3 linked regions of the Homo sapiens genome follow. The protein of the gene in region 3 purifies or fractionates together with the protein of the main gene of each other region. This does not show direct contact. Each region holds a gene or a part of one and is shown on either strand. Other genes may lie near its edges.

Region 1 (3,651 bases), on a different chromosome or scaffold from region 3:
TGAGTGCCATTTGGAGTCTCCAAAGGTAGAAGCTGGAGGCGGGGCAAGGAGGACAAAATCACAACCATTCAACCTGGCACTGTGGGACACAGGAGGTGACTCAGGGAGGAGCTGACGGGCCAGGCACATGGTGAAGGCAGGGGGAGCCTGGGCCCGTACCTGCTGGTGAGTGAGGTGTCCCAGCTCCTTGTACCCCAGCGCCAGGACGCGGGCTCCTTCCCGGGAGATCTCGGTGTGGATGTGGTGGTAGTCGGGCGGGCACTGGGAGAACTGCAGGGAATGCAGGGGGATGTCACGGGCTGCCCCGCGCCCCCACCCCTTGCCCCAGGCTGGGGCCAGCTCACCATGGAGTGCAGAGTTTCGGGGGCCCCCTTCACGGCCGCGATGTAGCAGAGGTCGGTGGAGCCCAGCTTCTCATACGAGGCAAGCACGGACATTCGCTTCAGGGCACTGGCAAAATGAAAGCGCTGGTGAATTTTCAGCCCCTGAGTTTTAATACTTCGGGGGAATACTTTCTCATCTGGAAACAAATAAGTACGAGTCCTGAGGGGCTTTGCTCCAAAGAGGCAGCCAAGCCCCTACCTCTCACCCCGGCCTCCCCCACCTCCCTCCTGCCTCCCCCAGGGCCTGATCGGGGCTCTGGGCTAGAGCAGGTGTTGGTCCAGAGCTGGAAGACCTGGGCTTGGAGGACCCTGGCACTGTGGCTTCGGCCAGGGCAGGGCAGATTCCAACCCAGAGGGACACCCAAGGACGTGGCCTATCCTGGGTCTAAAGTGAGCCTCTGGCCACCCACCTCGGGGAGCATCAGAGCTGTAGGCCTGCCTGTCCCCAAGATGCTCTGAGGGGTGCAGCCCACCTGCCTAGGGCTGTGAGAGCCAGTGGCTCCCCCTTGCTGGGCCTGAGGCCCCAGCCCCTCACCTTTGGTCAGCGTCCAGTCCACGGCCGTCAGCATGGCCTTCTCTAGAGGGTCACCCACGAGGGTGCCGTCGTCCAGCTGCATGAGCGAGTGGCACGAGGCCAGGGCCCGGTGTGTTTCTACAGGGATGCTGGACACTGGGGTCACCTCCTTCCCGTCTCTGCAAGGTCGGGGAACAGCTGGTTACAGAGTGCAGGCGGGTAGGGCGAAGCTGCATCCCCACCAGCAGAAGGACCCCCAAGGCCATTCATTCCGTGCTTGTCACTGGGGTGGCTTGGGCGCCAACTGGGTCTTTATGAGACCTGCACCTGCTTCACAGATGCCCCCAGAAGCCAGGCATTGTGCCTGGGGGTCATGTGGTGCATGGCTGGTGTGGGATGTTCCAGGCCTGAGCTGAGCCCCCGTGCCGCTACCATGGCTGACACCCAGGACTTTGTGGGGAGCCCCTGGAAATGAACCCGAGGCAGGGCCTCTGACGGGCCCTCACTGCAAGGGCTTGGGGTGGATGGGCCACCTGTCTCTCGACTTCCCAGAAACCCCATCTGGGTGACCTTTGCTGCAGGGCCCCTGATGCTTACCTCAGCCCGGCCACACCGCGCACCACCAGGCTGTCACTGGTCAACGTCCCCGTCTTGTCAAAGCAGCACACCTCGACCTTGCCAGCAAAGGGGATCCGGAAGGGCTCTGTGCAGTACATGTCTAGGGGCGGGAGTGAGGTCAGGGGTCCTGCTTGGCCCCAGCCCACTCGGCACCCCATCCCATTTGACACACTCACAGAGCTTGGCCAGGGCGATGAGGGAGGTGTTGACGGCCAGGGACAGCTCGATGGGCAGCTCAGGAGGCACGACCGAGGTGAGGATCAGGGTGCACTCCAGAAACAGCTTGTAGCGGTTCCGGCTGGGGTCCTTGGTACCTGTGGAGACAGGGCCTGCCAACCTGGAGCCTCGGAGGGTGGGCGCAGGGGACCACAGAGGCCGTGGCGCTTACCTTCAATCCATACATAGGCAGCTGCAGCGATGGCAAACACCAGGAGGAAGAGGATGAAGATGAAGGTCTCCAGGTTGTTCGCAGTCACCCTCTTGACCCCGAAGAGGATGGTGCGCAGCAGCTTGCCCTGGAGGAATGGAGGAACAGCCTTTCTGCTGTCTGGACTCCCTCCAGCAGCTCAGGCCTGGAAGCGTGGGCCTGGTCTTGGGGTGGCCTCTGCACCCTGGCCCAGGTCCAGGGCCGTGCTGCCAGAGTCAGCCCGTGGGGCAGATGTTCTGGGGTCGGAAAGGGCTGATACCTTGGCTGTCCAACTGCCCTGGGGCCCGCCCTCCCCAGACCTGGCCCCGCACCTGGGATGTGTTGAATCCGGTCCGCAGGACGTAGGCCACGCACCCGCTGTCAACCGCTGGGGAGAGAAGCAGAGTCACCGTCATGCCTGTCTCCTCGTCCTGACTCCCTCATGATCAAGCAGACGGGCAAAGGGGGTGGAAGCCCAGATACCCCCAGACGCCCATGAGGCACCTACGCTTCAGGCCCGTGGTGGCTTTCTGTGGGGGGATGTGCTGCACCACCTTGGTGCCCCCGAAGATGACGTGCAGCCGGGAATCAGCCTGGAGGTCCAGCACCCGGTCTGGGCTGAGGTCTTCGATGGGCTCCTGGGGAGGAAGATCGTGAATCTGGATGGCCAGGCCTACCTTGCTTCCTTCTCCATCTGAGTTCCTGGACAGCTGGACCTTGAGGCTGGAATGAGCCAGGGGGATCCCCACCCGACCAATACATCCCACCCAGCTCCCAGATCCTCACCCTCACCCCGTCCTGTCTTCTCCCCATTGCACTCACAGTGCCTGCTCTCTGGGGCCTGCACTTGGCCTCGTCTGGGACTCACCCCTCTGGACTGCTCCCAGCCCACCTTGGTCTGACATCCCAGGGCACCAATGTACCCTGGATGCCCTTGGCTCTCTCACCTCCTTCCTCGCCCCCACCACCCGGCTCCCCAGTCCACAGAGCTCATCTGTGCCCACACTGCCTCCTCCGCCTGTGCCTGAGGGGGATCCCCGCCACCCCCTGGGCCTCCACCTCCTGGCCTGTTTCCTCCTGAACAGCTTGAGGATCCCCATCCTCCACCAAGTACCTTCATCTGTGGCACGGACTCCCCCGTGAGCATGGCCTCGTCTACGATGCAGCGGCCTCGCAGCAGAAGCACGTCACATGGCACCAGGTTCTCCTGTGGGGAGCGGCCTGCAGGGCAGAGGCAGGAGGGTTGGCCAGAGGCCCTGAGGCTGGGGCTCCCACTGGGACTGAGCGGAACCCGGCCTCACCGATGGAGACGATGTCCCCTGGTACGATCTCATCACTGGCAATGGGCCTCCACTTGCGGCTTCGGTAGACCTGGGCGGGGCATGGGTGTCAGCACAGAAGCCGCACCTGTGCTGCACCCCCAACCTGGGTCTCCCTGGCAGCCACACCTGGATCATGTGGGGCTTGTTGCCCATCTTCCGGATCTCCGACATGTTCCGCATCTGCTGCTGCACCAGCGAGGCCTCGAACGCCACCAGCATGGATAGCGTAAAGACGCTGTAGTACCAGTACTCATCCAGGCACCAGAGCCCCACACAGAACACCTGTGGGATACCAGCCTGTCTGTCCTTGCCCTACCCGCCCTGTTCCCATGAGCCCCTTCCACCCACCGGATCTGATATGTGAGGGTGGGGAGAGGCTTCCAGGTTTAGAAGTGGTGGGCAGGCTTG
Region 2 (3,651 bases), about 44 Mb from region 3:
ACTGTTCATTCTTCCACTTTCTTTGTAGTGTTTAATTCAAGGGCTTTTTTACTAGTGTCTATATCCTTGGGTAAAAACAATTACGTAAGATGTAGCTGGATTAATAGGTGGGTCTTCTTGGCATCTTTCACACATTTGAAATAGACCAAGTATAGCAAGCTTGGTTTCTCTACGCGGGGGGGGGCTGATTTCAGTTTCCAGCACGAGGTCAGCTCTTACTTGTTCTGTCAGACTCTATTGCCACCAAACTGCAAGGCTTCTGTCTGTCTTTATTAAACTACCAGCAGTCCCCAGAATTCCAGTGAGTAAAACTATGACCTCAGCCTTTCAGGTGGGAATAGTTTCCTTCTCTCGGAGAGCATCCAAATCCTCCTATGTTGTTCCTGGATAAAAATCTAAGGATAAAGACAGTTTCTTGCAGACAAGTGTACCCTTGATGTCACTTGTTGCACTATTTATGTCGTCCCCCCCCCACCACCCCCATTTCTTCCCACAGACTAGTCTAGTTCTGCTGTTGCCATGGGGACCAGGCTTAGGTTTCCTTCACAGTGTCCTGATTTGGTCTAAGACCGCAAGACCTCTCCCAGCCTCACCCTAAATTGGTTCTGAGCTGGTCTCAAAGGGGCCCGCCCTGACCTTAAAGGTATATGGGCAAAGGTGGTATTCAACCAACTCTTAAGTATTTCCGGGTTAGACCTCAGTGGGTAAGTAGTGAATACCCAAGTCCCTCTGACCGCTCTTCCGACCCAGCATGAGGCTTGCCTGGCTGCACTAGCTTCCTGCTTTTAGGTGGACCAGAAGTTCAAGGGTGTGAATGAGAGTATAGCTAAGCCTCGAAGCGAAGCTGGGATGTAGCTGGCACCTGCATGGCCATGGGCTGGGCCGACATAGTCTCAGAACTGATCTGGGCACTGTGGCTGATTGGCAAGTGTTAAGTAGGCCAGGTCTATTCACAGTTTGCCAATTCCCAGCCTTTTTCCTGAGGAAAGTGTTAGTACAGTTCAGTATTGCTATTTAAAGATTTCTCCTCTACCTGCTGCCACTTCTGTTTGTTCAGGAACAAGGAATTGGTTATTTATGCTTCGCAATCATGTATGCTGTAGTTAGAGGAACAGTGCTAACAAAACTCCGCATCCCCACCCCAGGCCCTCTATTTAGCATATGTCCCTGTGGCTTCTCCCAGTCCCCAGCACGCTGGCATGCACTGCCCAAGTCCCTGCCATGTGCATGCTGAGACAGCGGCGCCTGCCTCTGCTTCTGTGTCCAGTGTGTGGTGGGGCAAATTGCTCTGGTTCTCTCCACTGCCATTTCCATGTGCCTGCTACTCCCTAACTTCAGCCTGGCCCTGCCCTCACTTCTGATGGAGGAGCTGGAGTCCAGGCAAGTAAGCTGGAGAGTGAGGGCGCCAATGGTCTGGTGTGGCTGGGTGGGTTGAGGGTGGGTTTCAGAGTTTGGGAAAGCAGTGTAGAGCTGGAGGGTGCAGGGCTGAACTTTTGTGTGTCATGATGAGGCCAGAGTGCAGAGCTGGACATCTGAGCCCTGGCACTCGGGACGTGGCCGTAGTGTCACATCACTCTGTGCCACATCACTGACTTAGTATGTAAGTACAACATTCATTGCCAAAGACAACACAGTTCTGCAAAGGAGACACTAATTTGTACCTTTCCAGAAAGAAATATGGTCTACTTTTACAAAAGGGGCTTAATTCTTTGAAAGAAAAGCATGCTAAATACAAAAAAAAAATCCCATCTGGTGGGGAGGAGGTGGTGCTCTCTGCCCCTGTTGTATGAATGGGGAAACAAAGCACAGAGGGCTGTAGCAGACTGCCCAAACCAAGGTTTCACGTAACGCTGCCTCGTTTCAGTGCTTCAAGTTCGAGCCTACATAGTTATAAAATGCTGCACCTCAAAGTTAAAAGAAGTCCAGGCTATTTTGTCTCAGTATGGCCTGGTTTGGGTTCTCCTGCAGCACAGCCTGCCACAGCTTGAGGTTTGAGCCTTATGCCCAGTACCACTTTTGACAGCTGCAGAAGCAGAGGGCTCATTAGTGCTGGCTCAGGCAGTAGCAGCAGTGGGTGCTCACATATTCACAGGACTTGAAAATACCTGAAATAGTGTAACTGGGTTTACAGAGGTAAAACTCTTATTTAATCTGGTACAAGGAGCATTTTCTCATGGCACTTGGTGCCAATGGATCTGCGATGGGAAGCATTTGAGTCAAAGGTCTTCTTCTAGGTATTGCTGGTACTCCACCATTGAACTTGGGTACCTGCAAAAAAAGCTTTCAATTTTTTTCCTGGCTTCTGTAAGAGGGGACTTTTCCTTCACCCTCAATTCTAATTCTGACTTCACAATGGGGAACTGAGAGTTTTCTTCAATGAGCCATTAACAAATTGCCTCCAGTACTGACCACAATGTCAACCTGGATGTAGAATTATCAACTGTCTCAGCCTCAAGCCAGTCCTCTCGGTTGACAGATGGAGAAACTGAGGTCCAGAGAGAAGTGAGTTGTCTACAACTGCCTAGGGAGTACCCAACAGACAAGCACTCCAGCTCCTGGTCTGGTGCATTCAAATGGCCTGTCCTGTTGGGATGTTCAGACTGGAAAGCAGGAAACTGACTCTGGGCTGGGCATGGTGGCTCACACCTGTAGTCCCAGCACTTTGGGAGGCCGAGGCAGGTGGATCACTTGAGGTCAGGAGTTTGAGACCAGCCCGGCCAACATGGGGAAACCCCGTCTCTACTAAAAATACAAAAATTAGCTAGGTGTGGTGGCGGGCGCCAGTAATTCCAGCTGTTTGGGAGGATGAGGCAGGAGAATCGCTTGAACCCAGGAGGGAGAGGTTGCAGTGAGCTGAGATCATTCCACTGCACTCCAGCCTGGGTGACAGAGTGAGTCTCAAAAAAAAAAAAAAAAGAAGAAAAAAGAAAGAAAGAAAAGAAAAGAAAAGAAACTGACTCTGCAGTATGTGTGCAGAGAGCCCTCAATAAGTGCCAGTTAGAGGTATGCAGGATTCTCTACTTTCTTTGTTTATATCTGCTGAAAGACTTTGTTCCACATTTCTCTCTGGTTGGTTTGGTTCCAAAGAAAATGGAAGATGAATAATTTAGTAATTTTATTTGCTCAGTAGGTTCCTTTCGATGCCACTCTTTGTTGGGATAAGTAACGGTACTCATAAGTGCAAGATTAAGCTTACCCTTCTCTGAGGCTTATCTGTGGGCTTCCCATAGCAGTTGTCCTGTTCCTTAGAACCAAATAGATTTGGGGGACCCCCAGCTGAAATTTCTCCATGCCTCCCTTTCCAAAGAGGAGAAAACCTTAATAGCCACCCACCATCTGACATCCAGATTACAATATTATTGACATTTCTTTCCCTGTTGAGTGGATATAGGAAGAAACAAACTCAGTTTCTTCCTGCTATACTGTCACAACATACTTCTATGACCAAATGTATGGGGCTTTTTCCCACACACCAAGCAAGCAAGCAGTTCTGCAGAGGGCACACAGTGTCCTCTAACTCAGTTTGATTCTGATACTATCTACCTGGAAACAGCATCAGATCCCACAGTTTGAGGGCTCAATCCCACAAGACTTTCCCCCATTTCAGACACCAATCACAAGTAATAGTTTGTCACCTACACCTCTGACCAA
Region 3 (2,539 bases):
CAGGCACATGGGTAACTGGCTCAGCATCCTCTTCCCTCCTAGTCACTCTCAGAGACCATTCTCGAGCCTCCAGCAGGACAAGACCCCTTTGGAGTTCCCAAACGTCACTCAAAAACCTACCAGAGGACCCACCGGCCAAATTCCTTCCCACCGCTCCCCCTCCCCCCAATAACTGTATCTGGGTAATCCCCACTCTGACCTCACCTTTTAACCAACTATTTCTGGCTGGAAGTGGCCATCCACATCCGTCTACTACCCAGACCTTCTGCCTAGACACAGCTTTTGCAATGCCTACGAGGAAGTGCTCGTGTAACCTGGTCTAATTAATTTTCTTCATCCCTGTTAAAGGACTGAATATGAAGAAATGTCCTTGAATTACAACAGAAGGAAATATGGTTGGACTTAGAGATTAGTTTAAATTCTTGAACTGATAAACAATAGAAGGTAGTGAAGCTCGGTCCTGGAAAGGCATTTCAATTAGGGAAAATAAAACAATGCTGCTTTGGTTGTGCTAAGAGAAAGGACGGGGCAAGATGATGTTTTGAGGGTCTTTCTAGTTAAGTCTACCTTCATTCATTCATTTGTTCATTCATTCATTCAGCAGATATTTCTTGAGCATCTAAGACACTCTCTGGGCCTAGGCTACACAACAGGGAACAAAACAAAAATTCCTACCCCCGGAATCTTTCATTCCATGTGACAACAAACAAGATAAACAAGTAAAACATGTATATGCTAGATTATGGTAAGTGCTAGGGAGGAAAAATGGAACAAGGGAGTTGATACAGCTTGGTGGATGGCTGGCATCCCCAAAAGGCTAACCTTTGAGTATAAACTTGCAGGGAGTGAGGCGTGAACTCTACCTGCAAAGGCCTGAAGGAGGAACGTGTTAGGCACATGCTAGCAAGAGCAAAGAGGCTGGGCAGCTGGAGCAGGCAGAGAGAAGCAGGAGAAAGCCAGAGAGGAAGGAGGAGTGAGGCCTCGGAGGCTGGGACTTGGCTTTTTCCAAGTGAGGCGTGGAACCATGGCAGGGTTTTGAGCACAGCAGTGCTGAGGTTTGAAGGGATCTTTCTGAAAGGTTTGCTTTACTGAGGGCAGTGTTCAACAGGCGCTGATTCAAGAGCCGATGTGCCTAACCCAGGCAGCTTCCACTTTTTTTTTTTTTTGAGATGGAGTCTCACTCTGTCCCCCAGGCTTGAGTGCAGTGGCACAGTCTCGGCTCGCTGCAACCTCTGCCTCCCAGGTTCAAGCAGTTCTCTTGCCTCAGCCTCCCTAGTATCTGACATTACCGGCACGCATCATCATGCCCAACTAATTTTTGTATTTTTAGTAGAGATGGGGTTTCACCATGTTGACCAGGCTGGTCTCGAACTTGTGACCTCAAGTGATCCATTTACCTCAGCCTCCCAAATTGCTGGGATTACAGGCATGAGCTACTGCGCCTGGCCAGTTTCCACTTTTGATCCCTGCCCTCTCCCTTCCAGCCCACAAGAGTGAACAGATACTGAAAGCGGCCAGTCTCCAGGTTCCCAGGCCCAGCCCTGGCCACCATCATCCACCTGCTGTCAAAGAGATGAAGGAGACTCAGACAGAGAGAGACATCCCAATGTCTGATTCCCTTTACAGGCGTGAGTAAGGGGTTGGAGGGAGAACTTGTCTAGGGACTAACTTTGCTCTCTCTGGACACCCAGGACCTCCCTGCAGCAACCCCATGGGCCCAAACCTCTAGCCTGAGGATTCCTCACAGCCACATCAGGACAGCCTTGCCAGCCTACTTTTTTTCAGAAAGGTGTTTTATTCTATTTCGTGGGGAAGATCATTCTGAGTTTGTGTGGGTCTAAGTTCTTTCCCGGGTTTAGTCGTGTGCAAATGATTGCAGGCGGCTTGGGAAATGTCCCTGCTCTTCTCTTTGTAAAGCCATGGCATCTTTTCTTCGGATTGATCAGCTAATGGTGGAGTTAAAATTTCACCTGCCTCTGCCTGCCTCCACCGTGGCTGCTGCTATGTCAGTGTTATTGGCTGGCTCTGTAGCTGGCTCCTCCATAGTCCCTAGAGGGACCCTTTTTCATGGTCTTAGATCTGCATGGGTATCTGAGTGTATAAATGTGAATCTTGCTGCTGGTTCAAATCTATATCACCCTCCTGCAAGTGAGCCAATAGGTCACTATTCACAGTGGAAGTGGCTGCTTTGGCAACAAGGCAACTCCCTGATAGGGGCTCACTCACCAGAGATTGCACTTCTTCCACTGGTTTGTCTCTTGATTGGTTTGAATTTGCTCTGTCCTGATTTTATCTTTTCAGTTGAGACATGGCCTCAGTGCCTGCCTGTGGGGACCTGAGGGTGCTGCTCATATGCATGTTTCAACAGAACTGGAGAGGCACTGGCCTTACCCTAACCCCTGGCCCCAAAGCTTCACCAGAGCCTGGCTAGAATCAGAGATTGTTTAGCTGTCAGGGACCTCAGAGACTCTTGTTCAACCCTCTTGTCTTGGGGGTGACGAAAACCAGGGCACAAAAAGAGATGTGATCTGCCTAGATT

What was found.
Region 1: the proteins of RHEX (region 3) and ATP13A1 purify together in Homo sapiens (affinity purification with mass spectrometry; one large-scale study listed by BioGRID and IntAct). This does not show direct contact.
Region 2: the proteins of RHEX (region 3) and NOS1AP purify together in Homo sapiens (affinity purification with mass spectrometry; 2 studies listed by BioGRID and IntAct, with this or other methods). This does not show direct contact.

The regions. Positions count from the first base shown.
Region 1 is NC_000019.10:19,653,625-19,657,275, forward strand, and holds part of ATP13A1 (endoplasmic reticulum transmembrane helix translocase), read right to left. Parts: intron 3,526-3,651; coding exon 3,370-3,525; intron 3,293-3,369; coding exon 3,223-3,292; intron 3,143-3,222; coding exon 3,036-3,142; intron 2,560-3,035; coding exon 2,430-2,559; intron 2,310-2,429; coding exon 2,254-2,309; intron 2,031-2,253; coding exon 1,904-2,030; intron 1,830-1,903; coding exon 1,692-1,829; intron 1,616-1,691; coding exon 1,495-1,615; intron 1,077-1,494; coding exon 919-1,076; intron 521-918; coding exon 345-520; intron 271-344; coding exon 160-270; intron 1-159. UniProt on the Homo sapiens protein: Endoplasmic reticulum translocase required to remove mitochondrial transmembrane proteins mistargeted to the endoplasmic reticulum.
Region 2 is NC_000001.11:162,359,545-162,363,195, forward strand, and holds part of NOS1AP (carboxyl-terminal PDZ ligand of neuronal nitric oxide synthase protein), read left to right. Parts: intron 1-3,438; exon of another isoform or gene 3,439-3,651. UniProt on the Homo sapiens protein: Adapter protein involved in neuronal nitric-oxide (NO) synthesis regulation via its association with nNOS/NOS1. The complex formed with NOS1 and synapsins is necessary for specific NO and synapsin functions at a presynaptic level.
Region 3 is NC_000001.11:206,098,171-206,100,709, forward strand, and holds part of RHEX (regulator of hemoglobinization and erythroid cell expansion protein), read left to right. Parts: coding exon 1-11; intron 12-1,484; coding exon 1,485-1,628; intron 1,629-2,539. UniProt on the Homo sapiens protein: Acts as a signaling transduction factor of the EPO-EPOR signaling pathway promoting erythroid cell differentiation.